Linked DNA regions of Homo sapiens. The protein of the gene in region 1 binds, or shares a complex with, the protein of each later gene. Each region holds a gene or a part of one and is shown on either strand. Other genes may lie near its edges. The genes, in order: TIMM50, TIMM21 and TIMM23.

What was found.
Region 2: TIMM50 (region 1) and TIMM21 share a complex: the UniProt entries of both Homo sapiens proteins name them as parts of the TIM23 complex.
Region 3: TIMM50 (region 1) and TIMM23 share a complex: the UniProt entries of both Homo sapiens proteins name them as parts of the TIM23 complex.

The regions. Positions count from the first base shown.
Region 1 is NC_000019.10:39,490,009-39,498,464, forward strand, and holds the end of TIMM50 (mitochondrial import inner membrane translocase subunit TIM50), read left to right. Parts: 3' UTR 1-3,771; downstream 3,772-8,456. UniProt on the Homo sapiens protein: Essential component of the TIM23 complex, a complex that mediates the translocation of transit peptide-containing proteins across the mitochondrial inner membrane. Has some phosphatase activity in vitro; however such activity may not be relevant in vivo.
Region 2 is NC_000018.10:74,141,153-74,153,998, forward strand, and holds the start of TIMM21 (mitochondrial import inner membrane translocase subunit Tim21 precursor), read left to right. Parts: upstream 1-7,370; 5' UTR 7,371-7,656; coding exon 7,657-7,957; intron 7,958-12,846. Other genes in the region: FBXO15 (F-box only protein 15), read right to left, coding at 6,518-6,633. UniProt on the Homo sapiens protein: Participates in the translocation of transit peptide-containing proteins across the mitochondrial inner membrane.
Region 3 is NC_000010.11:45,966,827-45,978,661, forward strand, and holds the start of TIMM23 (mitochondrial import inner membrane translocase subunit Tim23), read left to right. Parts: upstream 1-5,662; 5' UTR 5,663-5,798; coding exon 5,799-5,904; intron 5,905-8,627; coding exon 8,628-8,686; intron 8,687-11,835. UniProt on the Homo sapiens protein: Essential component of the TIM23 complex, a complex that mediates the translocation of transit peptide-containing proteins across the mitochondrial inner membrane.

The DNA.
Region 1 (8,456 bases):
GCTGCCAAGCACAGTGGGGGTGCTTTGTTGGATCAGAGCAGATTTTTCACCCTGGTCTCGGAATCTAAAAACCCTCGCTGTGTCTTCCTGTGTGTTGCGTGATCTGTGAAAAATACATCTCCCTCTGACCACAGACTCCTCATCTGTGGAGAAGGGAAGAGAGGATGGCACTTGGCTTTAAAGACAGGTAGCTGCCAGGCTACTGTGGAGAGAATGTGTTATGGGCCTAGTGGGCCTCTGGTGGACCAGAGATTACCCCTCTCAACAGGCCAGCTGCTGGTTGGCTCCAGCCAGTGTGGCCCTGGGGTAAAGGGGGCCTGGAGTTGCTTGACACGCCAGTTGTTCAAAAGAAGCAAGAACTTGGGAATATTTTTTTTTTTTTTTTGAGACAGGGTCTCACTGTTGCCCAGGCTGGAGTGCATTGATGTGATCTTAGCTTACAACAGCCTTGACCTCCCGGCTCAAGTGATCTCCAAGTGACCCTCCTGCCTCAGCCTCCTGAGTACCCTCCTGGGGACTACAGGTGCGTGCTACCATACCCAGCTAATTTAAACAAATTTTTTTTTTGTAGAGATGGGGTCTTGGTGCCCAAGCTGGTCTCAAACTCCTAGTCTTAAGCAATCTTCCTGCTTTGGCCTCCCAAAGCGCTAGGATTCCAGGTGTGAGCTACTGTGCCCAGCTAAAATAGGGATTTTTATATTAAATCTCCCTATTTTAAAATGTTGGCTCCTAGCGGGGCGCAGTGGCTCACGCCTGTAATCCCAGCACTTTGGGAGGCTGAGGTGGGTGGATCACCTGAGGTCAGGAGTTCAAGACCAGCCTCAACATGGAGAAACCCCATCTCTACTAAAAATACAAAATTAGCTGGGCGTGGTGGAGCATGCCTGTGATCCCAGCTACTCAGGAGGCTGAGGCAGGAGAATTGCTTGAACCTGGGAGGCGGAGGTTGTGGTGAGCCGAGATCGCACCATTGCACTCCAGCCTGGGCAACAGCAGCGAAACTCCATCTCAAAAAATAAAATAAAATAAAAATAAAATGTTGGCTTCTAACTAAAACAGGCAGATATGTAGCAGTGTTCTCCACTGGAACTTTCTGTGATGTTTGGTTCATGTTCTAGGTCTGTACTGTCCAGTACAGTAGCCAGTGGCCACATAAACCTTTGTTTTTTTTTTTTGAGACGGAGTTTCGCTCTTATTGCCCAGGCTGGAGTGCAATGGCACGACGTCGGCTCACCACATCCTCCGCCTCCCGGGTTCAAGCAATGCTCCCGCCTCAACCTCCCAAGTAGCTGAGATTACAGGCGCACACCACCACGCCCGGCTAATTTTTGTATTTTTTTAGTAGAGACAGGGTTTCACCATGTTGGTTAGGCTGGTCTCGAACTCCTGACCTCGTGATCCGCCCGCCTCGGCCTCCCAAAGTGCTGGGATTGCAGGCATGAGCCACCATGCCTGGCCCCACATAAAGTTTCTGAGCACTTGAAATGTGGCTAGTGTGACTGAGAAACTGAATTTTTAATTTTGTTTGAGACTGGGCACAGTGGCTCACGCCTGTAATCCTGACACTTTGGGAGGCCGAAGCAGGAGGATTGCTTGAATCCAGGAGTACGAGACCACCCTGGGCAACATGGTGAAATCCTGCCTCTAAAAAAAAAACAAAGTAACGAGCCCAGCGAGGTTATGCATACCTGTAGTCCCAGCTACGTGAGAGGCTGAGGTGGGAGGAATCCCTTGAGCCAAGGAGGTCGTGCGTGGCTGTGATGATCTGTGATCGTGCCGCTAAATTCTAGCCTGGGCAACAGAGCGAGACCCTGTCTCAAAAAAAAAAAAAAAAAAAAAAAAACCTTAAGATTTTTTTTTGGAGTCAGGGTCTCGCTGTGTCGCCCAGGCTGGAGCACAGTGGTGTAACTATAGCTCACTGCAGTGTTGAACTTCTGGGCTCAAACAATCTTCCTGCCTTGGCCTCCCCAAATGCTGAGATTATAGGAGTGAGCCACTCTGCCCAACTACTTTTAATTAAATAGCCACATGTGTCTCCTGTATTGACAGTACCACTGTGTATTAAGAGTATGAGTCCCAGATTGTGTAAGTTCAAATCCAAGCTCTACCACTTCTCGGCTGGCTTGTGATCCTGTGCAAGTTACTTTACCTCTCAGTGCCTCGGTTTCTACATTTATAAAATAATAACTGGGCAGGCACAGTGGCTCATGGCTGTCATCCCAACACTTCAGGAGGCCGAGGTGGGAGGATCGCCTGAGGCCAGGAGTTGGAGAGCAGCCTGGGCAACATGGGAAGAGCCTGTCTCTTGCGGGGGGGGGAGAAGAAAGTTCTTGTCTCAGGCTAGCTTTGGGGACCAAATGAAGCACTCCCATGTAGGCACTCAAATGGAACTATGTAAACCTTAGGCAAGGCACCTCTGCCTCAGTTTCCTCATCTCTAAAATGGGGTGATGGTAGTATGTTAGCAGAGTGGTTGTGAGGAGTGAACGGGACAGTCCGTATGTGGGTTATATGTATATATTCCCAGGTGCTTGCTGTTACCAGGCCATATGGGTTATTCACAGATTGAAATATCTTAGCTGGGCACGGTGGCTCACCCCTATAATCCCAGCACTTTGGGAGACCGAGGCGGGTGGATCACCTGAGGTCAGGAGTTCGAGACCAGCCTGGCCAACATGGTGAAACCCTGTCTCTACTAAAAAAATACAAATAAATTAGCTGGGCATGGTGGTGGGTGCCTGTAATCCCAGCTACTTGGGAGGCTGAGGCAGGAGAATCGATTAAACCCAGGAGGCAGAGGTTGCAGTGAGCTGAGATCACACCATTGCACTCCAGCCTGGGCGACAGAGTAAGGCTCTGTCTCCAAAAAAAAAAAAAAAAAAAAACAAAAAAAAAACCAGTTTGACTTTATCTCCCTCGCCCTGCCTCCATCCCCACATTGCCCCCCACTATCCCAGTCTCTCCTACTCCAGCCTTCATCTAGTGCTAACTGATTAAATATTCTAAGATGACCTTCTCTGGTGTGTGTGATGATAATTAAAAGGCATTCAGAACTGTGTGGACCAGACTGAACCTCTGCACTCTAGATTTTTTTTTTTTTGAAGCCTCTACAAAGGATAATTAAAATTTACACCATGACTCTTTGTCCTGGGGTGCACTGTCTGTAAGCCGGTGGAGTTATTTCCCAAAATCCTTGGTCCTTCCCAGCTTGAGGAAGTCTGCAGGACTGAGGGAGGGGACCTGTGCTTTTTTTTTTGTTTTTTTGAGATGGAGTCTCTGTTGCCCAGGCTGGAGTGCAGTGGGGCGATCTCGGCTCACTGCACCCTGCACCTCCTGGGTTCAAGTGATTCTCCTGCCTCAGGCTCCCAAGTAGCTGGGATTACAGGCGTGTGCCACTGTCAGGCCTCTGAGCCCAAGCCAAGCCATCGCATCCCCTGTGCCTTGCACATATACACCCAGATGGCCTGAAGTAACTGAAGAATCACAAAAGAAGTGAAAAGGCCCTGCCCCGCCTTAACTGATGACATTCCACCATTGTGATTTGTTCCTGCCCCACCTTAACTGAGTGATTAACCCTGCAAATTTCCTTCTCCTGGCTCAGAAGCACCCCCACTGAGCACCTTGCGACCCCCCACTCCTGCCCGCCCTTTGACTGTAATTTTCCATTACCTTCCCAAATACTATAAAACAGCCCCACCCCTATCTCCCTTCGCTGACTCTTTTCGGACTCAGCCCACCTGCACCCAGGTGAAATAAACAGCTTTATTGCTCACACAAAGCCTGTTTGGTGGTCTCTTCACACGGACGCGCATGAAAGCCACCACACTCAGTTAATTTTTGTATTTTTAGTAGAGACAGTTTCACCATGTTGGCCAGGCTGGTCTCGAACTCCTGACCTGAGGCGATCTGCCCGCCTCAGACTTCCAAAGTATGGGGATTACAGGTGTGAGCCACTGTGCCCGGCCTAATTTTTGTATTTTTAGTAGAGATGGGGTTTCACCCCGTTGGTCAGGCTGGTCTTGAACTTCTGACCTCATGATCCACCTGCCTCGGCCTCCCAAAGTGCTGGGATTACAGGCGTGAGCCACCGCGCCTGGCTTTTTGTTTTGTTTTGAGACAGTGTCTCACTCTTGCTCACACTGGAGTGCAGTGGCGCTGTCACCACTCACTGCAGCCTCGACCTCCTGGGCCCTCGTGATCCTCCCACCTCAGCCTCCCAAGTAACTGAGACTACAGGCACATGCCAACATGCCAAGCTAATTTTTTGCATTTTTTTTTTTTAAGAGAGATGAGGTTTCAGGCCGGGCACGGTGGCTCACAGCTGTCATCCCAGCACTTTGGGAGGCCAAGGTGGGCGAATCACGAGGCCAGGAGTTCAAGACCAGCCTGGCCAACTTGGTGAAACCCCGCCTCTACTAAAAATACCAAAGAGTGGCTGGGCGTAGTGGTGGGCGCCTGTAATCCCAGTCACTCGGAGGCTGAGGCAGGAGAATCGCTTGAACCCAGGAGGCGGAGGTTGCAGTGAGCCGAGATCGCAACACTGCACTCCAGCCCAGGTGACAGAGTGAGACTCTGTCTCAAAAAAACCAAAAAACCAAAGCTCTGCTGTCATGAGCTGATGTTCAGTGTTCTCATGGAGGAGACAAACAATGATCAGATAACTTCCTAGGGTAATAAATGCATAAAGAAAAAGTATAGCAAGGAGCAGCAGTGATCTGGGGACTCAGAGGACTGGTTTAGACCTGATGGGATGGTCGGGAGGCCTCTTGGGAAGGCGCATCTGAGCAGAGATGGGATGAAGTGAGGAGGGAAGCCCTGGGATAGCTGAGTGTGCCTGAGGCACACTCAGGGCCTCATGCTTACCGCAAGGCCTCCGCAATTGCTGTTCGCTCTGCCAGAAGTGTTTTTCCCTAGAGACTACACAACTTACTCCTTTAGGCCTTTGCTTAAATGTGACCTTAGCATGGCCTATTTTTTTTTTTTTTTTTTGAGACAGTCTTGCTCTGTTGTCCAGGCTGGAGTACAGTGGTGTGATCTTGGCTTACTGCAACCTCCACCTCCAAGATTCAAGCGATTCTCCTGCCTCAGCCTCCCCAGTAGCTGGGACTACAGGCGCCCACCACTATGCCCGGCTAAGTTTTGTATTTTTAGTAGAGATGGGGTTTCATCATGTTGGCCAGGCTGGTCTCGAACTCCTGACCTCAAGTGATCTGCCCGCCTCAGCCTCCCAAAGTACTGGGATTACAGGTGTGAGCCACTGTGCCTGGCCAGCATGGCCTTCTATGGTGACTACAGTCAACATATAAAGAAAAGTTGTGAATAGCCAGAAAGATGCTCAGAAATCCCTTAAAGTACACGACACGACACACGCACACACACCACAAGAAAATCCACAAGAAATGCCATCGTGCCTGCCACAAACCTTCACAAAGGCTGGCAATTTTTATAATCTTTAAAATTTTAGAGCCAGGCTCAGTGGCTCACGCCTGTAATTCCAGCACTTTAGGAGGCTGAGACAGGAGCATCACTCGAGGCCAGGAGTTCAAGACCAGCCTAGGTAACATAGTGAGACTCTATCTCTAGGAAAAAAAAAAAAACAAACAGGCCAGGCGTGGTGGTGGGCGCCCATAATCCTAGCTAAATGGGAGGCTGAGGCAGGAGAATCGCTTGAACCCGGGAGGCGGAGATTGCAGTGAGCCGAGATTGAGCCACTGCACTGCAGCCTGGGTGACAGAGCGAGACTCCGTCTCAAAAAAACAAAACAAAACAAAAACAAAAAAACCCCAAACAAAACAAAACAAAACAAAAACAAACATTCTGAGATATCTCAGACCTGGAATCTGTTCCCCCCAATGATCATCCAGGGCAGGAATTTGCTTCCTTCCATAGCTGGTTGCCCAAATTCTGTTAAAATATATTCTGTGATGGGAAGCCTATTCCCTCACCTAACCCAGTATTAGACCTAATTTGCCTCCAGGTGACTTTGGTTTACAAGGTCTGGCTTTACTCCTTGGGGCCACATAACTTGTCTGACCTCGGGGGGATGTGGAAGGAGGGTCTCAAATGTCAGCCTTAGAAGCTTACATATTTAGAAGGCACTGGGGAGCTACAGAAAAGTCTAATGCAAGTGAAGGAAATGGTCTGATTTGTGCTTAGATAAACCCCACAGGGCCAGGCATGGAGGCTCATGCCTGTAATCTCAGCACTTTGGAAGGCCGAGGTGGGAGGATCGCTTTTGCCCAGGAGTTCAGCCTGGGCAACATAGGGAGACCCCATCTCTACCAAAAATAATAAATTAGCCAGGTGTGGTGGCTCATGCTTGTAATCCTAGCTACTTGGGAGGCTGAGGTGGGAGGATCATTTAAGCCCGGGAAGTCGAGGCTGCAGTAAGCTAGGATAATGCCACTGCACCGCAGCCTGGGCAACAGAGACCCCATCTCAAAAAAATAAAGACCTCATAGGCCAGAATGGTCAAGGCTGAGGGAGGCACAGACAGAGGGGTCGGGCAGAATAAAAGAATCATAGGGGGATGTGGGAGCTCAGAGGAGGTGCTTGATGCTTCTGGGGAGTGTTAGGTAGTGCTGCCTGGAGGAGGTGAAGTCTGAATGGTGAAAAAGGAATTAAAGAAGGGAGTGGAGCCGGGCACGTTGGGTCACGCCTGTAATCCCAGCACTTTGGGAGGCCGAGGTGGGCGGATCACGAGGTCAGGAGTTGAAGACCAGCCTGGCCAAGATGGTGAAACCCTGTCTCTACTAAAAATACAAAAATTAGCGAGGCATGGTGGTGCGCACCTGTAATCCCAGCTACTCGGGAGGCTGAGGCAGGAGAATCGCTTGAAACTGGAAGGCGGAGGTTGCAGTGAGTGGAGATGGAGCCGCTGCACTCCAGCTTGGGCAAAGAATAAAACTCCATCTCAAACAATAATAATAAATTAAAAAAAAATAAGGGAGTGGAAAAGACAAATACAGGGAAAAGGAGCCTGGGATGTTCTGCCCAATCTGACCCATGGCGCTGCCTTGCTCAAACGCCACTGTTGTCAGAATTAAGAGAAGAATCTTTAGGCTGTTTTTTTCTCCTCCTCCTCCTCCTTTTCTTTTTTTTTGTAGAAAAGTGTGTCTTGCTGTGTTGCCCAGGCTGGTCTCAAATTCCTGGCCTCAAGCAGTCCCCTGCCTCAGCCTCGGAAAGTACTGGGATTATAGGCGTGAGCCGCTGTGCCCAGCCTGGTCTTCTTTCATTCATTAAAAAATTAACTGCGCAGGGATTAGTGGCTCATGCTTGTAATCCCAGCAATTTGGGAAGCCGAGGTGGGTGGACCACTTGAAGGTCAGGAGTTCGAGACCAGCCTGGCCAACATGGTGAAACCCCGTCTCTACTAAAAATATAAAAAATTAGCCGAGTGTGTTGGTGGGTGCCTGTAATCCCAGCTACTCTGGAGGCTGAGGCAGCAGAATCGCTTGAACCCGGGAGGTGGAGGTTGCAGTGAGCCAAGATCGCACCACTGCACTCCAGCCTGGGCAACAAGAGCAAAACTTCTTCTTCTGAAAAAAACAACAACAGCAACAACAAAAAACAGAGCGCCTACTGTATGCCTGGCTCTGCTGGGCTAGGCTTCGTTGGTTACTATATCTTACTTCTCTGGAAAAAGACATATAAATTGAACCTGTATTTTCCCCTATAATTATTAGCCTCTAAGCACTAAAGTTTTTTACTTTGGGGGGGAAAAAAAAGAAGTTACCCCAGCTCAAGGGTTTTGCCCCATGCCTGGCAGGGAGCAATTATGACCAGAGGGGCTGGGACATCTGCTCCTAATTGGCTTTTCCTGCTGAGGTCCTGGAATACTAAAGGGTTTCTGAAGGGCCCGGGATGTCCCCCCCCCCAGTTCTTCTGGGGTGGGGGAGCGGGTCCCTGTATGTGAAGACGGAATTTCCTGCCCATTTGCTCCTCACACCTTCCGGAGGCCAAACGGGCAGCCCAGCTGCGGCCCGAAGGGGGAGGGGCTCGGCCGCCCGGCAGATGGCGGCATTTACATACAGCTGGGAGCCCCCTCTTGAGGCCGAGCTCCTCGCCCTGGCGTCTGGTGCGTCCGCGATGCGGGGTTTGGGAGGGTGGCTTTGTCTTGCGGAGGGGGAACACACACACGCCTGCACACAGGGGTCCACAAAGAGCCCTGGATCTTCATCGTATCCACACACAGCTACACCCGTGGATCTCCCAAACCCAGTCTCATTCACACAAACCAGCGCACACAGGGGTCTACAAAGAACTCCGGATCTTCATCGTATTCACACGCGGCTGCATCCGTGGACCTCTCAAACCCAGTCTCATTCACACACAGGCGCCCTCAGCCATTCACCACCTTGCACAGCCTCTACCACACCCGCACAGAGCACAAAGTCACAGGTTTATACGCCTATACAGGATCTCCCATAAACACACACGCACAGAGAAGCAGCCACA
Region 2 (12,846 bases), on another chromosome or scaffold:
CAGTGAGTCTTTTTCAGAGGTTCCTAAAGTAAATTTTATTAAGATCAGTCCTCAAAACCAGTAGTACTCAGCAGCACCTTGAGGGAATCTGAAACACCAGAAAATCATACAGCTCACAGCCTCCATGTCTAGGCAGCAGCACACCCGGAGAGCCATGAATGGTTACACTATTTCTCTAGGAAAGGTTTGGAAGCTTCTGCTTTAAGCAACATACAACACACAGGTATTGGATATTGGCGCACCTCCTTCCTGATGTGCTATTTAAGAAGTGGCTAAATCCTAGAGAGTACATTATGTATACGCTCAGTTCACCAACATCATTGCTTTGAATGTGTACTTTGTGCACTGACAGTTTAACCACCCTCAGTTTTTCACACCAGGCCAATTCCCCAGATATAGTTGAAACAACATTCATAAAGGAGGGCAACAATTGGGAGCAAAAAAAGAGATGCCTTAAGAACTTGGAAGAAAAAGTAATGAACCAACCCCCCTGAAAGCTGAAGTATGAAATCCACACACAACTGGTCTTAACAGAGGATGGCCCTCAACTCTGAGCACAACCTATTAGATGACACAAGTGGTGAAAAAGGAGCCCTTGCCCTAGGCATCAGCTGGCCAGGTGACAGTGTAGCCTGGAGCCTACCGCAAGACAGCATCATGATATGCAGCACGCACTCAAATCACCCACTGGCACCTGGCTGCCCTGCTTCCCAGGCACAAGTCTCCACATGCTTCCAAGCAGCTACAGAGTAAATTCCTCTTCCCTTTGTGAATTTTTCTCTCTAGAAAAAAGCACAGTAGCTGGTACAGGGTAGGCCCTCCACAAATATTAGTGATCAGCTGCTCCACTGGCATCTCAACAAAGAAGTTGCATAAGGTAAACTTTTCCAGATCCTGTAAGAGTAAAAATGCACCGAGGAAAAAAAAATGCTGGCTCCACATGCCTTTCCATCCCAGCTTCAGTAAAAGGTGCTTAATATACTTTTGGTCTTATATGACTTTCTAGCCAATGGTTTTCAATCTGTGCTCTGCAGGGCAGGAAGACAGGGAGAAAGGACAGGAAGAAATGCTAATTGGGACATTTTTGCAATACCCTCTCCTCCTTTAATCAGATAATTCTACCTGTTATATATTTTTGTACTTCTGTTAGAAATTTTGTTTAAACACAGATTTCCACAGGAGAAAAGCTTAGGCTCCATTAACATGGTCCTAACATAGTAATCATAAGTAAAATATCATTTCCTAATTGCATTCGTCTCCTAAGACTACCTTCACAAACTGGGTGACTCAGAACAACAGAAATGTATTATGTCTCAGTAGCCAGATGTCCAAAACCCAAGTTGTCAACAGGGCCGTGCTCCCTCTGAAGGCTCTAGAGAGGATCATTCCTTTTTCTGGTGGTTGCCAGAAATCCTTGGTGTCCCTTAGTTTGTGTCAGCATAACTCTAATCTCTGCCCCCATCTTCACAGAGCAATCTTCCCTCTAGGCATATCTGTCTCTGTGCCTCTTCTTATAAGGATATCATTCATATTGCACTTAGGACCCTCCCTCATCCAGTATGACCTCATCTTAACTAATTATACCTGCAGAGACCCTATATCTAAAGAAAGTCACATCCTGGTGTTCCAGAAGGACATAAATAACTTTAGAAGGTATAATACACTTTGTTTACTGTCAATAGTCAACACAGTAAACAAATTTGTAATACATTCTAAAATTATTTAAAAGCATGACTTATTTTTAAATGGTTATTATTGTTGTAAAGTCTGTATTGACTTATATTACATATTCAAAGATAAAATATCTACAATTGATAAAGGATTCTAACACTTAAGCTTCAAATAAAGGGAATTTCTATCATTCCTTCATCAAACAATAACAATTCCTATCAGGAGCTCCAAACCTGTAACCCTTAAGCCTATGGGAGTGTGGGGGTTGGCTGTACCTAGAATCGGAGTCCACACATACCCTAAGCATCATATGAATAATTCTATATATACTTTAAACATAAATATTATTGTAGTTCATCAAATATAATTTTATTTAAGATATTAAATAAATACCTTACTGAATCAGTAACAGCTTTTTGTCATTGTTTATTTCCTCAATAAGAAGCCAGAAAAATAAAAACTGTTACCTTAGGCCTTTCCAAGAGAACCAAAGAAAAGTAAATTCATCTGATGGATCAATTTTAATCTAGCAATTGGCAAATACCAAATAAATGATGATGATTCATGCTGGCTATGTTACAAAGAAACAGGCATCCTCATTTACTGCCCGTAAGACAAGATACAGTGGTACAAACGTTATGGAAAGCCAAATCTGATATTGGAATCCAGGATCCTTAAAAAGCACATATGCTCTTTTAAGCCAGGAATTCCACTTCTAGAAATGTGCACAGATAGTTCACTCAAGAATGTCCATCTCAGAGTTGTCTGCACTGGGGGAAAAAAATACTAAAAACGGTATAGAGATTGGTTAAATTGCATGGTCTCCATAGAGTTAACAATGTCTAGTCAATTAAAATATAGATTTTTCAACCCAGGTTAAGTGTTTGAATTAGAAACAGGTCCCTGATGGCCTCCAGGTGTCTATATGGCTTGCTCCCTCACTTTCTTCAGCCATTTACTACAATGTCACCATCTCACTGAGACCTTCCTTGGCTGTTATATTTAAACTGCAATCCAGTCCCCTCTGCCACACACACATGCACTTTGTGTCCTTTCTCTGTTTCTCTCCTTAGCACACATCACCATCCAACACTATACATTTAACCTGCCTGTCTTGCTTACTATCGCTGGAATGACATGGGCAGTTATACTGCATGGGTTTGTTCACTGCTGATCGTTCAGCACCCACAATATGCCTGGCATGCGAGCAGCATTCAATAAATATCGCTGAATCACTAACAGTATAACTGAGAAAGCAGGTTATATCAGTATATACTACTAGGTTGGTGCTAAAGTAATTGCGGCTTTTGCCATTACTTTCAGTAACAAAAACCACAATTACTTTTGCACCAACCTAATACATAAACTTATTTTTCTATTTCTCTAAGAGGAAAAGTAAATATATGCATACAAAGAAAAGAGATCTAGAGACACCAAGGTTTAACAGTTAACAGATCTGATTCATAGGATTACAAAATCTGTTGGTGAAGGTCTTTTTAAATGGGGACGATTTAGGGGGCATAACTCCATGTATGTTCTAATTTTTCTTAGCATATTGAATCTGTAATAAGTTGGGGGGTGGGGGTGTTGTTTTAATTTCAAACCTAAGAGTCACATGCAAAAGAAGGCCAGGGAATCACAGTTTGACAGCACAATCCTTGAGACTGGAGCAGTGGTTCTCAAAGGCATTCCTAGCAACAGAACTCTTGCAAAGAAACTGAAACCAGGTCCCCCGAAATCTGGGGGTACAGTCTGCAGCAAACTCAAAATTTCTTAGGAGTCTCCCAATTGATCTTAAAAATTAAAGCAAATACTGCATTCTACTAAATAATCTGTCTTTGTCCTATCATAAAAATGTATTATATTATTTACCAGTTAAATTATTTAACATTTTCCCCAAAGCCTTTGTGTTGATTTTGCAGACAAAGAAGATGCTCTATGTGTTCCCCACCCACTACAACTACTCGTTTGAGAAGCACAGCGCCAGGGTGCTTAGATGTTTCAAGAATACATACTGGCTTAATCCACCACCAAGTTCTTACTGAAAACCTTAACTTGTGTGTCCCGAATTTATGAAAGATTACTGTGAAAACACCAGTGAAATAAAGTCACCTGTTTTGTAAACATATATGCATATAAAATATATGTAAATAAAATGATCTTAGTAAGTTCCTCAAAGTCATGCTGTAACTCTCCCCACTCAAAGATAGTTTTAAATAACGATTAAGCAAATAAATCCTGTTTGGTACTAGTTATTTTTTTTAAGTACCAAATGCTTTTCCCTAATCTGAAACCCTAATTCAGTAACGAATGGATATGCCTCTATCTTTGGCTAAAACATTTAACAGGGCTTAGTTAGTTCAATTCTACAAATACTTCTTAATCATATACTCTGCACAAGGTAATGTGTAAGTGCTTTAAGACATTTCATCCTTTATTTAATTGGAATATGAAGGCTATTTTATTACAAACATGTTTTCACACTTTTAAAACGTCAAAGCTTATTTCTTGCTGTTTTGTTTTTTCACAATTAAAATGGATCTCATAGAGTCCCTCATTTCAGTTTACAAGGCTAAGGCTCTAACAAGGCAACTAAAGAAACTTAAGGTCCCAAGCTAGAAGCAAAGACAGTCTCTGAGACGCCCATCTCCTTAATGTCCTGTCAGAGCTCTCTGTACCATGTCTTACATGAGACCATACATCTTATCAGTGTACCTTTTAACACTATTGGAAACACATTTCTATTTATCCATAAAATAAACCAACTGCACTTTTTTTTTTTTTTTTTTTTTGCGACAGAGTCTGGCTCTGTCGCCCAGGCTGGAGTGCAGTGGCGCTATCTCGGCTCACTGCAAGCTCCGCCTCCTGGGTTCACGCCATTCTCCTGCCTCAGCCTCCTGAGTACCTGAGCCTACAGGCGCCCGCCACCATGCCGGGCTAATTTTTTTGTATTTTTAGTAGAGACGGGGTTTCACAGTGTTAGCCAGGATGGTCTCGATCTCCTCACCTCCAGATCTGCCCGCCTCCGCCTCCCAAAGTGCTGGGATCACAGGCGTGAGCCACTGCACCCGGCCCCAATTGCACATTTTTAAGGTCCACATAATTAACAAATCAGCAAGTTCTATTTATGTTTTTATGCGAATCTATACGTCTACAAGGTTAAGTGTAGACATACACTGATACATTTAGCAAGATAAATTTAGTTTGAAAACACTTTTTTTCAAGTGACAGGTTTTTGTCTGATAGCTTTCAATAAGTCCAATATTTTAAAAACCTAATGACTGTGCTTCATTTTAAATATCTGGCAAATCAAATAAATTACAGCAGGTACAAATTAAGCCAACTTAATACGCTTTCTGCTACACTTCTTACAGTTTGTGATATTTATACATATTCACATTTTGTGTTAAAAGGGAACACTGATTCCTTAACAACATCTAATTTTCCACAGCGATATATTAAAATAACCACCTGCTTTGACCATAGTCAATCATTCTATTTTTAGCAGCGGACTTTTCTTTACCAAAAATAATGCATACATTTCCAAATCAGCTTGAAATGCAGGTTCCCATGCCAGGCATAATGACAGGCCCTCTAATTATATCAATCCAGGAAGTTCACTCAACTTACAAAGGATAAAAGATTCATCATATAAAAATCATTCTGCTTCCCCCTAATAGAGCACTATGTAAAGACTAATTTTAGTAATAGCAGCAAATTGATTAAAAGTTCAAGTTTCCTATTTAAATTCCTGCTTTTTCTCCTACATAAAAGAATTTTTGCAGGCATTGTCACCATTCTATTTGTGACAAGGCTTGTGGTATGTCTAGCATTATAGGTATTCAATTAAGAACTATTATCACAGCACTAAGCAACAGGGCTGGGCTTCTGAAAACAGGTAAGTGGAAGTAATGGAGACCTAGAGAGGACACAGGACATAGTTCTGGAGATTCAGGGGGAAAAAACAAGTAGTTCAACTAGTATGTAATAGACTCCCTTTGTGTGCTTAAACATAGACCATTGGTTTATTAGAAGGCAAAATATGCATGACTTTCCCTATTTATAAATCAAGGAGTCTTACAAGCAGAAAGATAATCCTCAAGAATGTAAACCATTCTTGGCATTATCCCTCCATCTGTAAACTAACTGCAGTGATGGGTACACAGCTAGGGAACAGCTCACGATATAATGAGAGGGATTTCATAAGGTACCATTATGCATGCTGATACTTCTGATGCACTGGCTCATTTTACTTCTTCACGCTGAAGATGCTTCTGGAAAGCAGATGAGCAAGACCTGGCAATGTAGATGGCAACTTAGCCTTGACGTTGGAGGTGCAGAAAGTGCTGCCCCCCACCCGCCAGACCAACCTGCCTGCCCGAGGTATCTGCTTGGGGGATGAGGGTGTCAACTGATAAGGTTTTGATGAACAGACTCTACTTCCCTAAGTTGTAAGGTCATGAAAAACACGAAGGGAGATTCTTGGTTACAGAAGAGCGAAAATACGAAGGCAGGGGCGGAGCACACGTGAATTTAGGGCACGCATCCCGGAGAAACGACCTCTTGGACCTGCACCTGTCCTGGCAGGTGCGCGCATCCCCGGCCACAGGCGCCGCAAGAAAAAATATTTCCCCGAGAGGCTACTCTATTTGTGTCATAACTTAGGGTACCCCACGTTGCAGGGTAGAAAGGATTTCCTCCGGTCGTTCTTCCATACCCTTCTCACGTTGAAGACGGCCACGGGCCTTGCGCCAAGCTGGACGAATAAAATACACGGTGAAGAGAGCGGGGCCGCGCAGTGACGGGCTTCCCGCCAGGGGACCCCACCCGCAGGCCCTACAGTCACCTGCACCCAAAGGCCCTGGCGCGCCCCCGGGCCGCGCCACCGCCCCTGCTGGGCCCGCGCAGCGTCTGGAGGCCGAGCCAGTGCTGCTGCAAGATCCGACCGCGTCCAGTCGCCATAGAGACAAGGAGTTCACCACAGGACCGCGCCAGGGCTGAAACGAAGAGTGCACGCACCGCCCCCACGCCCGCACGTCGCCACACCCCTTATGCGCATGCGCGCGTGAGCAAAAGTAACGGTATGCCCACCCTTGCGCAGACGGCACCGCGCCAGACACCCGCTCACAGAGCGGGCTTCTAGAAACTTCCGGGCCTCGGCTTCCTTACCCACCCCTAACATTCTGCCGCCTAGGGCGCCAAGCCAAGTTCGCGGCTTAACCATTTAGGAAACCGGTGCCTGCTTTGCAGCGGCCTCGTTCATCCCCACTTGCTGACTCTTTATTGTCCAGTTTTTCTGAAAACACAGTAAAACGCAAAAACTAAATCATTTGCCCACGCGGAATTGGCAAGACCACAGTCCAAGGGGGTATTTCCCACTGTGCACAGTCCTCTCTATAAGGATCAGGAAAACACGTAGATTGTAACTGCTAATTTGGCTTTTGCAAGTCCCGCCTGAACCACGTAGGGTGGGTGGTACCAATTCCCCCACCAACACCCCACTTTCCGCCGCTCCAGGGACGCGCAGCGTCTGCGCCGACGCTGGGCGCGGAGGCGTCTGGGGGCGCGGGAAGGACCTGCGCCGTGCTCTGGCCGCCTTGAATTGTGGGAGATGTAGTCTCTTTTGCGCGCCTCTTTGCCGTATCCCAGTTAAGAGCGAGGTTTTCAAACTACTATTCCCAGGAAGACGGGGGTTTCCCAGGTGACTTTGCGAAGGCATGGCGGGGACACTGTGAATGTCAGCCCAGAAGGTGATCAGAGCCTGTTAATTAAAATGGAAAGAAGACAGAAGGGAAGGTAGACATCAGGTTCTCCCTGGAGACTTTTCGTTTTCATTTACGCTGCGGAAACTGACGTTTTTGCCTAACACCCCATGTAATGTAAACGTATAGGCTTGAGTACGTGTCCGGCCGCATGTGTAGTGAACCCTAAAGCTTTCCTAATTGTAGTTAGCATCGTCCCTAAGCGGAACGATTTTCCGTGAACATGATTTGTACTTTTCTACGAGCCGTACAGTATACGGAGAAGCTGCACAGGTCCTCGGCAAAGCGATTGCTTTTGCCATACATCGTGCTTAACAAAGCGTGCTTGAAGACTGAGCCCAGTTTGAGATGTGGGCTTCAATATCAAAAGAAAACGCTGCGACCTAGATGTATTCTTGGAGTCACCCAGAAAACCATCTGGACGCAGGGACCGAGCCCCCGAAAAGCAAAGGAGGATGGCAGCAAACAAGTGTCTGTGCACAGGAGTCAGAGAGGGGGAACCGCCGTCCCAACATCACAAAAAGGTAAAAAGGAGTACTTTAATGATTGGGCTTTCAACAGACATGACAAGAGCTGCCAATGCCCTTTTATACCAAGTTCACTGCTAAAGGTGAAAAAGCAATTCACATGAATTTTTAAAAACCGTTTAAACATAATTTAGAACTAGAACATATAGATCTACAGTTTTCTTCACAGATTGGAACTCAGATGTGAAAGTTGATCTTGAATTTGATATAACTTTTTTTCATTATGTTTGGGAAATTTTTCTCAAGTTATATTGGCTCTGTTACATATAATAAAGAGTAATTGGATAGGATAAAAAGAGAGAGAGAGAGATTATTGACTCATAACTGGTAGGGAAAACTTTCACATGTTACCTGCAGTAATAGAAAAACATAAAATAGGGAGGATGGAATGTAAGTTGTCAGGGAAAGTCAGAGATGTATTCACAGATATTTTAAGATTTTTTTTTAATGTCTTCATTTCGCATGTGATTTGTAGGAAAAAAAAAGACAAAGCAATTTAGACCGCCATGATTATACCACACGAAGATGACTATTTTTAACATTTTGCACTTTCATACACATACCTTTTAATAATTTTTAACCCAAAAAATTGGATCATACCAATTGTTTTAGAGTCTGCTGACTATGCCAAAAACCTAGCTTTTCATTCATACTAGTTCAGCACGAAGGAACAACCTGTATGCAGAGGTGAAAGGCATAGAAGTGGCAAACAGCATGTGCATCAGGTCATCTGGCTCAGGCAACAGTGCTCATGCTTGCACTGCACACCAGGCCTGCTTAGGGACCCCTTCCCTCATCTGCACCCCATTCAGACGTGACAGTCCTTGTGGCTGAGTGAATTGATGGGAGCAACATTCCCAAATATGGAATATGCTGCGTCCAGAATTCAAACAGGCCTATGAAGCATTGTGGTAGGAGGTATAGGGTACAATTGTCTTTTACTTGGGAGGGCATGTCTTGGCACGCCCCAGTGTAGCCCCACGAGGTCGGCTCATGTGTTGATGAGCCTCTGCATCTTTGTTGGACCCACCTCTCACACTTGCAGCTTCTCTGACCAAGCCTTCTAACACACTTGCCACTTGTTACTTATGGGCTCTAACATGATGGCATAAATATAGTAGACAAATGTGATATTCTCCTGAATGTCCAGAACAGCATTATTCAAATAAAACTTTCTGCATAGAAATGTCCTATATCTGTGCTGTCCATTTGGGTAGTTCCTGGCCACTTGTAGCTATTTTGAGCACTTGAAATGTTGCTAAAACTTGTGACTGAAGAACTGAATTGATTTAATTTTAATTAATTTAAAATTGAACTGAAATAGCCATGAGTGGCAAGTGGCTACTGTATTAGACAGCCCAGGTCCAGAAGGTTTCAGTCCCTTAAGACTGTTATGATAGAGGGTGAGAGAATTAGCAAATCCTGGGCAGGATCATAAACATACACTGTTATTATCTGTTTCATGTTACTACAGACTACTGCTGCTGCTTCTGAATAGAAGGCGTTCTTCAAAGCAATGGCCAATACCATGAGATTGTGTTAATGCATTCCCCTGTAAAGTTACCATTTGTGGTATTACATGTGTACCCCGGCTGCCACTTGGTTGAGTTTGCAGTTAACCACTGTCATTCTCCAGCACCTATTTGTGTTTTGTAAAGGAAGACTGGTAAATTACAAGGGACCGTGATGGGGATCGCCATGCCTGTATCTAAGGTCTCTAAGAATACTCTGCCATTCCCCATAGATGTGATATCATTTTTAATTTCCTATCTTGGTCACCGAAAGGGCAGCTTCAGGGGCTTCCATTTGACTTTTCCCACTGCGATGGCTCTTAACCCACTTCCAAAGGAACTAAAGTGGGAGTTATTGTTGCCAGTTACTCAGTACATCCCCTTGATTTATACATTTGGAAATCACAGAAATTATTGCCAGGTAAGTCCCTGGACCCACCTGTGAGCTTCTTACATCCGGTGATGGAGGGCGGTCAGGGGGTCATCATGACTCTTTGGGTCCTTGGGTATCACTGTCAGCACAGACTATGTCCAAGTTGATAACTGTAGGTCCTTTTGGTGAAGGACGGGGGGAGTCAGTTACATACGCTTTCCTTCAGTAAATGCGTTCCAGGTCTGAAAACTGGTTCAGGTCCAGAAACTGGGGCAATGTTCAGGACTTTGCATTAGAGCAGCTGCCTTCAGCCTCAGGAATCATCTGTAGTTAATTTCTCATGACTGTGTAATTCAGAAGTAGCCTTGTCCGCTGCCCTTGTGTCTTCCCTTTGGAAACACTGTGTTCTAGTCATCAACTCTGTTGCTTTCTGTAGGTCAGACACTCCCGACTGCCACTCCAGCCTTGCCATTAGTTATGATGGTTGCACCCACCTTGGCTTCTGTTTAACACCCCAGCCTGGTCTCTGCTTCATAATTCTTTCATCTCCATTTCTGTCAGGGCATCCTGCTCTATAAAGATGTAACTGTGGCTTCCTTGTGGCTTTGGTACACAGTGTCCTCCTGTCCCTCCTAAGAACATAGTCAGCTGGTGGGTTTTCGGGCTTTATATCTTATATCTATGGTAGCATCCCCATTCTTGGAGGCTGTTGAGCCTTTCGTCCAGTTTGCCATGGCTGTTCTGTCACTTTTACTTAATGTGGACCATCACTGTCTCGAAGTTTCCAGGAGCAGACCTAGCCAGCTGCATATCAGTTCCCAGGGTGCTTGCCTGGTTGCTAAATTCATCACAGGAGCGTGCCCCATGCTGATCAACTCTCAGCTGGTTTTGTGTTCTGTGCCCTTGACACACCACCCTTAAGAAGCAGTGGTGTCTATGTTCCCCCCCCCCCCGGGGGGACCTCCAGCTCCTTCCGAGTATTGTTCTTCTCACCCTTCTCATGCCCAGTCGTGTTGTAACTTGGCCAGGAGGGGAGGTGGAGAGCCCTCCTGAGAGCAGCACGTATCTTGCTAGGCAGAAACCCCCACCCACCCCTCGCCCAGTTTCCAAGGTGGAGGAAGTGCCAACCTTTACCAGACACTGAGCTGCTGCTTCAGGGCTAGAGGGGTCAGGAGAATTGGGATTCAAGATTTTTTACAACATTGACCTCAAGGGCCCCCTACCCAGCTTTAGGTTGCCTTTCCTCCCAAATCAGGACCCTGACCTTGGTGTGGGAGGTCTCATGGGCTTGAAATGCCAAACTCCCTGAATCCCTTCCGCCCCAGACCTCACCCACGCATTTTCTATCCTCTGGGTGCAATTTGAGTCTTGTTCTGCCGGGGAGGAGGCTCCTGCCCTTGGCACTCACCTTCACTGGTGATTAGTTACACACTTCATCTCACCATCCCTCTCCATGGCCCCAGCCACAGCCGTCTGATATAAGTCCTTAAAATTGCTGATTCCTCCTAAACTCCCAGAATAACACATCAGCCAGTACATTCCCTTCCGCCAGCATTCCATCCCAGGTCCCCATTGGTGAGAGCTGCATCAGCTGCACTACAGCTCTATGACAGGTGCTGTCAGTACCCCCCTACCACCAGGGACAGGGTCCTCATTGCCAGCCAGTGGCCGGCAAGCCAGCTCCAAAATCCAAATTGAGAGCTGCTTACCACTCCTGGTAGCACCCGTTGTAGGTTGGCTTCCCAGGGAAGTGGGATTTGCGTAAGGTTTATCAGGGAGTGCTCTCAGAATACGTCTTGAGGGATGAGGGAAGCAGGACTGGGCAGAGGGAGAGGCCGAAGTGCATTTGCAGTTGGGGCCTCAGCTGCTGCTCTGGGGACTTCTGGAGCTGAGCTGGCCAGTCACTGTCCTACCTAATATGGGGGCTGAGTCTTATGCTTCTGCATCAACCAGGCATTGAATATGGGCTGGTCCAGGGAAGTGCCGTGACCTAAGTGAGGAAGCTCTCTTATGATGGAATGCCCAGAGAGGAGCTCAGCTGACAACTGTCCGCTACCAGTGCTCCCTGCAGCTGGGAGCCCCATACCACAGCACCCACTATAGGAGGGGTAGAGAATTGTGGAAGCAAATAAATGGCATGAGGGTTTTTTGCATACAAGTATTAGGTCTGATAGGGTTCAGAAAGTTAGACAGTGAGCAGCTTCCATTGGAGACAGCTATAAAGTAACAAACAGAAATTTTTCAAGTGTGTAGAATATGGAGAATATTTAGCACAGGGCTTTATATATAACAGATATACAGGAGCTGTTGTTTATCAAATAAATGGAAAAGACCTGTCAGATACCCTAAGCAAGGTAGGAATGAATTGTTGGAAGGGACAGTCAGAAGTCCAGGGTGTTGGGGCCAATGACCCGGTTTGGGTAACAAGGACAAATAAGGATACTTACTAGAACTAGTTAGTTGTTATTGTATTCTCAACCTGGGAGTTGATACATAACTGGCAGGTAATATTTATTGAAATGTATTTTGTGACACTGAGAGTGGAATGAGATGTCGTCATTGTAGGCCCCAACTCCTGAACCTTGGAAGGGAAATTGGATTTGTGACAATTGTTTGAGTCAGTCCCATGAATTACACAGATTTTGGCAGATGAGGTCTTTTTATTATTTGAATAATGTCTTCTAAGTTGGGAACCTTGCTGAAAACTTGAAGGATTGTGATACGCTAAAGACTACTTTTAAACAAGCGTTGTATTAGCTAAATACTTCTTTTAAACAATGTTGTTTATAAACATAATAGAAGCTTTTTATACAGAAGAGAAAATAACAGCAACATCTATTAAAATTTTCTTCCAAAAGTTTTTTTCTTAAAAATTTTTTAAAGATTTATATTTCAGAAGTCTGAATGGCTAATGTGGTGAATAAATTAGTCTATAAACATAATGCCAGGAGGTGACTCACTTTCTCAGCATCAGTGAAAAGCATAGTCGTAATTGTAATGTT
Region 3 (11,835 bases), on another chromosome or scaffold:
ATGAGGGGAGCTGGAATCTATTTTTTTTTTTTCCAAAAGTGATTCTGATGATCCACTAGATTGAACAGTTACTTGCCAAGAACATAAACTAGTCCTTGTGAGAGTAGTAAAAGTGAGGAGAGTCATTACAGACTTCACAATAATAGGGGAAGTTAAAAGTGACTTTAAGCTTTGAGCTTGAGAGACTTGAAAAGTGATGACAGCCTTAAGTAGAAATATGGAATACAAGAGAATTGTGTTTAGGGAAGAAATACGATTAGGTCAATTCTGCCTATACTAAATTTGAGATGCCAAAGAAGTAACTAGATAGAAAACCATATCACTACTTCTGGCTTCCTAAGGTTTCCTTCCCAACACACCAGCAGACAGTAGCAAAAGTAGAATTGATAGCTCAGGAGAGGGAGATTAAATATAAATAAATACAAGCCACATTTTATATAATCATTAGAAATAAGTATGCTGTCAAAATTTAACATACTGAATAGGGATTAAATGTACATCATATTTTAGTATCAGAAATAAAATCTTAAACATTCGCAAATGTTTAAGATTTGAGATACTCACTAAATTGCAATGTAAGAATCTTAGCATCCTAAGTCACAGGATCTTTCTTATTTACCTACCTCTCCTCAAACACCATATGGAGCAAAACAGATGCAGGCCAAATATACGAAAATCAATGGTTTATTTTTCATTGAAATAATGGCATAATCGAAATACATTTCAGATGGGGAGAATTTTATACCAGAAAAATATTCAATTGCTATATAATCTTTACCTTCCACAAAATACTTATAATCCAGCTAGTAAAAATCTTTGATTAATGTTTCAAAAATAGTTTCTATCACAAAAAAGTAATCACGCATAGTGATTTCTTATTGTTAAACACCATTACTTCCACGATTTTATTTAGCATTTCTGCAGCAGATCAGGCTTCAGAGAAAAAATGAGCTTCAGTCAGAGGGAGTAAGAGGATAAACCATTTGATTCTGAAATTTTTTCTACAGTTCTGTATTCTCTATTTATTTTCTTTATATCAAATACAGCAAGTATAGTTTAGAAAATCCTCAAATTGGGCCGGGCACAGTGGCTTACGCCTGTAATCCCAACACTTTGGGAGGCCGAGGCAGGCAGATCACAAGGTCAGGAGATTGGCTAACACGGTGAAACCCCGTCTCTACTAAAGATACAAAAAATTAGCCAGACGTGGTGGCGGGCGCCTGTAGTCCCAGCTACTCGGGAGGCTGAGGCAGGAGAATGGCGTGAACCCGGGAGGTGGAGCTTGCAGTGAGCGGAGATCGCGCCACTGCACTCCAGCCTGGGCGACAGTGTGAGACTCCGTCTCAAAAACTAAAAAAAAAATCCTCAAATTACAAACCAGTAATATGCCAAAACATTCATTTTTTGAGTTGGTTTAGAAGTTAAAACATCTTTTTTCCATAAATGTAAGGATTAATGTTAAGATGCAATGACTAGGTTCCTATAACACACACGAAGCATGTACTCCCGTGATAAGTCTAAAGAACCTAAAGACCGCACACATCATTTCATGAAAAACCAGGAGTGTTCCAGTGATGGCAAAGAAGAAGAGAGCTCTCTCCCGTAGCCCTGACCCTGAGAATGTGTTCTCTCTCCAGTTTCAGGCTTCCTGAAGCCTGGGGAAGGGATGAAGGAGGAAAAGCAAGAGGTAAGGAACCAGTATCTTCTGCTAATAAAACATTGATCAGTCCTTCTTAGGGCCTCAGAGAAAGGACTGCTTACTGCTCTTTGCAATATCACTTCGTTAAGCCTTTATTTCCTCACCCAGAAAATGAAGCTAACAACACCTACTTCTAAGGGTTATGTGGATCAATTACAAAGCAAAAATTAGAGAAAATATTGTGTTCAGCCTCACAAAGCACTCAATATGTTATCTCTCGACATTTCCACCCAGTCTTTTTTTTTTCCACTGAGATCAATAATTCTCCAACTTTGACTTCACACCATTTACATTTACTCTCATCAGCAACATTATTCAGTACCCAGTATATTTTAATCAGCAAGTCATTCAATTAATAGCTATAGATACAGCCAAAAGGCACAAAATGCAATAAAATTCACCTGCATGTCAAAGGAACATTCCACTTTCACAAAAAGTCTATAGCAACACATCTGGATAAACCTGCGTCATCACAATGTGAATAACATGCTGAGTTCTGCCAATATGCAGGTTTGCAGATTTTTTTTTTCTTTTTTCAGAAGTGGGGTCTCGCTATGTTGCTCAGGCTGGACGGGAACTCCCGGGCTCAAGTGATCCTCTTGCCTTAGCCTCCCAAGTAGCTGGGACTACAGGTGCATGCCCAGCAAAATTAGCGATTTCAGTCAATACAAGAAATATGTCCAGGAAGATAAAGAATATAAAATTTAAAGATACTGAATAAATATCCATTTCGCTACCCCGCCTACTTGTCCTAAGATAATTATATATAAAAATTTAAATACCAAGTTCCTAAAGGAATCCCAAAAATTCAAACAATGGGCTTTTGATACAAATATAGTCTTTGAACATTCTGTTAATTGGTGTCCTGTGCCAGGTATACAGAAAACATTTAAACATGCGAAATACAGCCCCAAGTATTCATTTGGTACCTCTTCTGCAGAAATCTTAATTAAGATCCAACCAGTGAGGACTGACTGCCCTCACCCCTATTTGCAACTAACTCCTCCTCCTTTACATGCAAATAAGGTTAATGAAACCACAAACTATCCAGTCACAGAAGCTGAAGTACACCTGAACATATACCTGAAGTTCACCTTCAGTTCCCTCTCCCCTATACCAAGTTCTCTGAAATCTACATCCTAAATTTTAAATCCATCCCTTCCTCATACTCTTTAAACACATCGCTTACTAGACAACTGCCATTTGTTTCTTGCAACTAGTCTCCCTGTCTACAGCCTTGACTATCCAGTGTTCTACAAACTACAAATGACCAGTCATTTTTCAATGAAATAACACAGACAATATAAGAATGCATCACACATAGAAAGATTAAGTATTATTTCATGAAACATTTATTTCAGTTATAAATATGGCTTATTTGCCAGGTTACATATATTTCTTACTCTGTGTACTGGATAAAATTTATGCTGTGGGTTGCAGTTAGGAAAGTCCAAAAGCCACTTTTCTAAAATATTAACCAAATGGTATTCCCACGCTTAAAAGCTTTTTAGTGGTTTCTCCATTAACCACAGAATAAGGTTGAAATTCCTTAAAATGGAATTTGAGTTTCTTCATAAGCTCCTGTCTGCCACCCAGCCTCATCAGACACTCCTCTGTCATCTTATGCTCCAGTCTTACCAACTTTTGCATGTCTTATTCCCTCTGCGTGTATAATTCTTTCTCCTCTTGATTTATACAGCAAATCTTCCTCATCCTTCAAGGCCTAGTGCAAGTCTACTTGGTACTGTCCCTAAGTTCGAAGACATCTAAGTGTACACTCTTCACCAGAGAACTGCCCGAGCTCTGCCCAGCCTCTTACACTGTTAATGAATGCATCCTTTTTGAAATGCTCTCCTTTGTCTGACACAACACGAGCCAGGCTTTCCTCCCACCTCTACAGCCGCTTCTCTTCAGTCTACTCTTAAACTTTGGTGTTCCTAAGGCTTCTGCCCTAGGTCACCTTTACTTTCTCTACATGTTTATGTTATCTATGCCCATAGCATCCATTATAATGTTTATGCCATGAACTCCCCAATCTACTTCTCCAGCACAGAAATATTTCTTCTCAAGTATCCCATTCTTTCATGAATCCATCCCCTTCCCTATTGCCAGCATCCAGGCCTAAGCTACAATTATTTCCAACCTAGATTAACTCCTTAACTGAGTCTTGATGCTCCACTTGAGTTCCTTTTCAATCCATTCTTTATTTTCCACACACCAGCCACACAGACTTTTCAACAAATAAATAAGTCTAATCAAGTCACTCCCCTACTAAAAACCCTTGAGTAGCTTATCAATGCCCTTAGAGTTCAAAATCCTTAGCAATGTCTACATATCCAATTTGATCTGACTTTTCTGTACCACCCTGCAGCCTCATCTCTCACACTCTCTTGCGTTCACTCTATATATCAATTGCACTCCTGTTTTTGTTTTGTTTTGTTTTGTTTTGTTTGAGGCGGAGTTTCGCTCTTGTTGCCCAGGCTGGAGTGCAATGGTGCCCTCTCGGCTCACTGCAACCTCCGCCTCCCGGATGCCAGTGATTCTCCTGCCTCACCTGCCTCAGCCTCCGGAGTAGCTGGGATTACAGTTGCCCGCCACCACGCTAGGCTAATTTTTTGTGTTTTTAGCAGAGACGGGGTTTCACCATATTGGTAAGGCTGGTCTTGAGCTCCTGACCTCAGGTGATCCACCCGCCCCGGCCTTCCAAAGCGCAGGGATTACAGGCAAAACCACCGCGCCCGGCCTCCATTGCACTCCTGAAACACTTCTTACTTCCTCTTCATCTAACTCCTACTCATTCTACAGTCCTCAGAATAAGCATCTCATCTTCTGGAGGACTATTTTCGATTCCATAAATTCAGTTAGGTAAAACAATCTGTCTTTCATCTATCAGAACATCCATTACCTTTTATTATATTAACTTTTGCTATCGTCTATCTCTCCAGATAGATTTTAAGGTATGAAGGCAGAGGCCAAGTTTCTCTCATTCAACACTGTATACCAGGGACGGGTACAATGCCAGCTTAGACTAATAGCTCTGCACCCTGGGACCCAGAATCTGCACAAGTGAAGTTGTTTTCTTCCTATCTAGAGGCTGAAGCGCCCTACTGTTTTACATACACAATTAGATCTCCTTGACGACTAAGGCAATTTCTCAATCAAACCTGAAGAAGCAAACAGGTGGTGGAGTCTCCTGCCATTTTCCGCCCTGTGAGTGACTGCTCATCAGAGTTTCTCACATCAATCGCACTGGGAAAAATGCGGCCCCATTCACCCACTAGTGGCTTTGGTAGCTCAGCAAGTGGACCTCAGAGTGATGATGCACACAAGACCAGAAAGGAGTGACTGGAGTCCCTGAGACCAGAAGGTTCGGGCCGAGGCGAAGGACAAAGATTTTTATTTTCCCACGTACCAAGCGAGGTGGCGCTGCCTCTGTGCTGTCCCGCCTGCCCTGGGACGCAGGCTGGCGAGGACGGTGGGACCCTGAACTGCACGTGAGCGTCCTTGGGGTCGAGGACGCGCCTCTGCCTGCTCGGAAAGCTCCGGGCGTCCGAAGCAGCCGGCGAAGTTGTAGCGGCGCCCCAGCGGGGTCGCTTGGTGCAGGGTTCACAGCCGGGGCCCGCATTCATGCTGGGACCAGCAGCGCACTGTCCCCGGGCCGGCCCCGGGCGGAGAGCCTCATTTCACTAACCTGAGAGAGATGGACTGCGCGTCCTTCTCAGCGCCTGCCTGCACCATTCCCTCTCTGCCGCTGCCTGCTTCTGCAATTGCTGATCCGCCGGCCTCCCAAGTCAGGCCGTAAACACTCGCCTGCTTTCTCTCTTCCACTGGCACCCCACCTGCCTCAATGCGCCGCTTTGATTCGGGATTCGTTCACTTTCCCACCACCGGAAAGCTGCCGTCAGGCGCTTCCAGCTTCCGGGGCGCACATTGCCGCAAAGCGGAAGTGTGGCGCTTAACGGGAACCGGCGCCCGGAAGGTCAGCGTGTGAAGTAGGCGCTGGCAACGCGGGGTTACCCGCTGTTATTGAGGAGTAACGGCCCAGCGGACCACCCAGGCTTGAGGCAGCGGCGGGAACCACTCGGTTTGCTGCGATACCATGGAAGGAGGCGGGGGAAGCGGCAACAAAACCACAGGGGGATTGGCCGGCTTTTTCGGAGCCGGCGGAGCAGGTTACTCGCACGCGGATTTGGCTGGCGTCCCGCGTAAGTATGGGGCCTAGCTTGCGATTATTTCTGACTGGTTTTTGCGTCTACACTAAGTTGCGCGTCCCATGTTTTATGTTGTTGTTTTTTTTTTCCTTGCTGGCATTTACAAGCTTAAGTACCAGTGGTGGGGTTAGTGTATCTGCATGGCTGCTCTTTCAAGATAGAAAGGCCTAAAAAAGGGCCACGGATCTCCTGGGGAAGCTGTCCGTGATTGACCTGGACTCGCGAGATGATGCATGTTTTCTTAGGTTTATATCCAAGCCTCCTACGTTTTGTGTGTGGTGGGCCGTGTGATTGACCCTTGATTAAGAGTAGAGCCGAGCTTTGGGAGTAAATGTATTCCAAATAGCAAGCCCGTAGTTAACTTTTTAGTACACAGCGACATATTCTGAGCCTCCAAGTAGCCGTCAGGGCAGAATATTCAGTAATATTGTTTGTAAGTGAGAAATAAATGACTTGGGACAGGCTAGGAAACCTTCTTTAGGAGCTAGGAAGTAAGCTGAACTTTAAAGGTGATATATAGACATGAAGAAAGAAGCCAGGTAAGAATTATAGAAACGGAAATAGGCAACATCAAGGTATACAGAGGCATAAATATCTTGCCTTTGCCTCTCCTCGGTCTTGTGAAAATGTTTTCCAGAACTTTGGTACTTTGTAACTGTGGTTGTTCAACTAGATAAATACAACTTGGACCTAAAGATAGGCAGTTGGTCGTGGATAAAGCCTTTACGAAAGTACTTTCTTTTTAGAGAATCCTTGTAATATTTCTCTAGGTATTTTATACTAAGGAACAACAACAACGAAATATGTTCAGACTGTAGTGCAAAAAAATATAAAAGACCTTTCATTTCCCTGGTGTCACCTTTGTCAAAAAACTGAATCTACAACACATGGTGTTTTGTTTCGTTTTTTTGTTTGTTTGTTTTTAGAGTCAGGACCTCGTTCTGTCACCCATATTGGGGTGCGGTGGCATGATTATAGTTCACTGAAGCCTCGCACTCCTGAGCTCAAACAATCCTCCCCTCTAAGCCTCCTAAGTAGCTGGGACTCTAGGTACGTACCACCACGCCTGGCTAATTTTTTTTTTTTTTTGACTTATTGTGGAGATGGGGTCTCCCTGTGTTGTCCAAGCTGGTCTCAAACTCTCGAACTCAGGCCATCCTCCTGTCTCGGCCTCCCAAAATGCTGGGATTCCTAGGCCTGAGCTACTACTTTACCTGTTTAGAACACAGTTTCATATTAATCTTAGTATCTCTGAGTTTCAGAGCACAAAGGGCATATACACTTCCTTAATGTGACAATATTGTTAAATTAATTTGATTAAGATTTGAAGGTAAATTGGGGGACCAGGGAATGAACACCATTTACTGAGCTTTTACAGTGTGCTAGCTACTTTTCTGGGGGCAGGACTATAGTGGTTTTTGTGGGGGTTTTTTTTGTTTTTTTTTGAAAAGAGGACTCTTGCGCTCACAGAGCTTACATAATACTGAGGTAAACCAACAAACATAAATTAAAACATTGCCGTTAGTGATAAGTGCTGTAAAGGGAATAAAGCAGAGTCTTGAGATTGTGATGGAAGCAGGATGCCATTTTAGAGCCGGTTAGGGAAAACATCTCAAGGGAGTTGACATTTGAGCTGTGACCCAAATACAGTACAAATGCTTGGGAGGCAAGTATCCAGGAAAATAGCTAGTGCAAATGTCCTGAAACAAAACAAATTTGGCAGGTTTAAGGAACAGCTCTTAGGCCAGTCTGTCTTCGTAGTTACAAGGGAGTTGGATCCATTGAAGTTTGTGAAATCAGAGAGGTAGGGAATGACAGCTAATGTAGGATTTTGTAAGTTATGGTAAGGAGTTTCGATTTTCTTAAGACAAATCACTGTAGTTGCTATGTAGACAGTGAATTGAAGGGGTAAGAGAAAGCAAGGAGTTAGGAAATTGTTGCTGTGAGATATGATGGTTGGACTAGGATGGTAGCAATAGAGAAGATAAGTAACACAATTCAAAATAGATATTAAAAATAGAACAAGCAGGACTCCTAATTGATGAAAAGATAGAGGCATGGGTGATGCATAGGTTTGTAAATAACTGCTGAGATACAGAAGGATCCAAAGATGATAGGTTTTACTGTTTTCAATGTTAGTGAATTCAGGTCTGGCCCTCTCAAAGTTTGTGTTTTCTTTTGCACAGACCCACATACCTGTGGTAATGACCCAAGGATTCTCAACCTTGCCACAGTAAATCAATCGTTAATAGTAATATGTGAAGGAACTGCCTTGAAATAGTTAGATACAACATGTACACAGTCAGAAAACCCAACCCAACCACTGTTTTTCCCATGGAATTGATTAGTCTTTTTTCAGTCTTATTTTGTAATTTACATAGTCACCAAGCATTCTTGGAGTAAAGTGAAAGAAATTAGCTTTGTAAATGGCCTGGACTACACTTCCTGTAAGTTCAAAAATCAGATCTATGACACTGCAATTATCTTATTGGTGTAAAAGCCTGAGCCACCAGTGGAAGACCTGGTTTGGGATTGAGGGTCTCAGGATGAGTCAGCCCCCAAACTGACAGATAGGGAGGATAAAATGGGAAAAAATTTTCCGCCTTCAGTGAGCCTATAAAAATTGCAAACACATGTAACAGTCAGGAGCTGGATTAACTCTAACTGGATTAACTTAAAGAATTTTGTTGCAATGTGACATTTTGTTTTCTCTCTAGTAACTGGTATGAACCCTCTGTCTCCTTATTTAAATGTGGATCCACGATACCTCGTGCAGGTAAGATTAAGATTTTACTAGTTTGGTGCATTATTTTACCATTTTAAAAAAAACGCCAAGTGCTATGCTGACTTGAACTATGACATACACTTTTGGAGGCAGTAAGTCTCTGGTCTCCATTCACCCTTTTTTCCTCACAAACACCAGGAGCTTGGCCTGCATCTCTCTGAAACCAGTTAACTCCCTTCAAAAGCTTATTTTTTAAAACCAGAGCAGAATTAATTTTTGAAAGCACCCCAATAAAAGTATTGGGATGCCTAGTTACAAAGTGTGTGGGGTTTTTTGTTTGTTTGTTTGTTTGTTTTTGAGCCAGAGTTTTGCTTTTGTCCTCCAGGCTGGAGTGCAGTAGCGCGATCTCTGCTCACTGCAACCTCAGCCTCCCAAATTCAGGCCATCCTCCTGCCTCAGCCTCCCAAGTAGCTGGGACTACAGGCGCCCACCACCACGCCTGGCTAATTCTTGTGTTTTCAATAGAGACGGGGTTTCACCATGTTGGCCAGGCTCCCAAAGTGCTGGGATTACAGGCAAAGTGTGTTTTAAAGCTCAGTTTACAATATCAGGGTTTTTTTGACTAAGCATCAAAAGTTTCAAAGAGTATCTTTTTGAATCCAAGATATATTAGGAAATATATCTTGGGTATATTAGAAAAGCAAGGTTGATTTAACATCTGAAAATTAATGTATTGTGCCATATCAATTTATAATAAAGCAATCAAGGAAAGAATATAGTACAAAGACCACATGCTTATCTCAATAGATTCACAAAAATCATTTGACAACATCCAACACCCCCTTTAATGATTATAAAAACAAACTAGGCTGGGCGCAGTGATTCACACCTGTAATCCCAGCACTCTGGGAAGCTGAGGTGGGCAGATCACTTGAGGCCAGGAGTTTGAGACCAGCCTGGCCAACATAGCAAAACGCTGTTTCTACTAAAAATACAAAAATTAGCCAGGCGTGGTGGTGCCTACCTGTAATCCCAGCTGCTTGAGAGGCTGAGGCACGAGAATCGCTTGAACCCTGGAGACAAAGGTTGCAGTGAGCTGAGAACACCCCACTACACTCCAGCCTGGGCAACAGAGTAAGACCCTATCTCTAAATAAATAAATAAAACTAGACATAAAAGGGACTTCAGCCTGTTAAATGCCATCTACAGAATATCCAAAGCTAACATAATTTAATGGTGAAAGACTGAATGCCTTCTCCCTAAGATCAGGAACAAAATAAGTATATTTACTCTCATTTATATTCAGCATTGTCTGGCCAGGGCAATTAGTCAAGTACGTTAAATGGCATTCAAGTTGAGAAAGAAGTTAAACTATCTGTTTACAAATGACATGATCTTATCTATAGAAAATCACAAGGGAAATCACAAAAATCTGTTAAAACTAATGATCGAGTTCAGCAAGTTGCAGAATACAAGTTCAATATACATAAATCAAATATATTTCTAGACAGTTGCAATGAACACTACAAAAATGAAATTACAAAAAACAGTTGATTACCAATAACATCAAAAAGCAAATACTTAGAAATAAATGGACCAGGTGCAAAACATATTCTGAAAACTATAAAACATTATTGAAATTAAGTGGAAAGACACATGCTATGATCCTGAAAATTTTAATATTAAAATGGCAGTGCTCACCAAATTAACCAACAGATTTAGTGCAGTGCCTGTCAAAATCCCAGCTGGCTTTTTTGCAGAAATTGACAAGCTTTTATCCTAAAATTCATATGGAAATTCAGGGGACATAGAATGGCCAATGACCTTGAGAAAATAGATTGGAGGACTTGAACTTGCCAATTTCAAAACTTTCTACAGAGCCACATCATGATAGTAACATAAGAATAAATCCATAGTTAATGAAATACAGAGTCCAGAAGAAAGACCTTACAATATATGCAGTCACTTGCTTTTCAGCAAGGATGCCAAGATAGTTAAGTCAGGGGAGACGTTAGGACAACTGGAATCCATATGCATAAGAATGAAGTTGAACCCTAACCCTGCACCATATGCAAAATGTTACCACCAAATGGATTAAAGACTTAAATGTAAACTAAAGCAGTCAAACTCTTAGAAGAAATCATGGGCACAAGTAGTTGTGACTTTGGATTAGACTGTGATTTCTTGGATGTGACACCAAAAGCACAAGTGGTAAAAAGAAAGTTGATAAATTGTATTTAATCAGAATTTAAAAATTTTGTGGTTTAGACAATACCAACAAGAATGGAGGCCAGGTGCAGTGGCTCATACCTGTAATCCCAGCACTTTGGGAGGCTGAGGTGGGTAGATCACCTGAGGTCAGGAGTTCGAGACCAGCCTGGCCAACATGGTGAAACCCCATCTCTACTAAAAAACAAAAATTAGCCAGGCGTGGTGCTGGGCGCCTGTAATCCCAGCTACTTGGGAGGCTGAGGCAGGAGAATCACTTGAACCTGGGAGGCAGAGGTTGCGGTGAGCCAAGATCGCGCCACCCGCACTTCAGCCTGGGCAACAGAGTAAGACTCGGTCTCAAAAAAAAAATAAAAAAATAAATAAAGAATGGAAAAAGTCCTGGCGCAGTGGCTCGTGCCTATACTCCCAACACTTTTAAGAGGCTGAGGCGGGAGGATCACTTGAGCCCAGGAGTTTGAGACCTGCCTGGCCAACATAAGAAGATCCCATCTCTCCAAAAAAATACAAAAATTAGCCGGGTGTGGTGGTGTGCACCTGTAGTCCCAGCTACTAGGGAGGCTGAGGTGGGAGGATCACTTGAGTCCAGCAGGTCAAGTCTCAGCATAATCAAACCACTTAACTCCAGCCTGGGTGACAGAGAGAGACTTTGTCTCAAAAGGAAAAAAATTGGGAAAAGACAATCCACAGACTGAGAGAAAATATTTGCATATTATGTATCTGATAAGGAATTTATATCTAGAATATTTAATTTTTTTAACTCTTGAAACATTAATAAAAAATAATTACAAAATGGGCAAAGGATTTGAGTAGACATTTCTCTATGAAGATATACAGATGTCTAATAATGACATGAAAGCTGGTCAGTAACATTAATTAGAGAAATAAAACCACAATGAGATACCTCTTTACACCCACGGGGATCACTATAATCAAAAAGAAAATAATGAGTATTGTTGAGGATGTAGAGA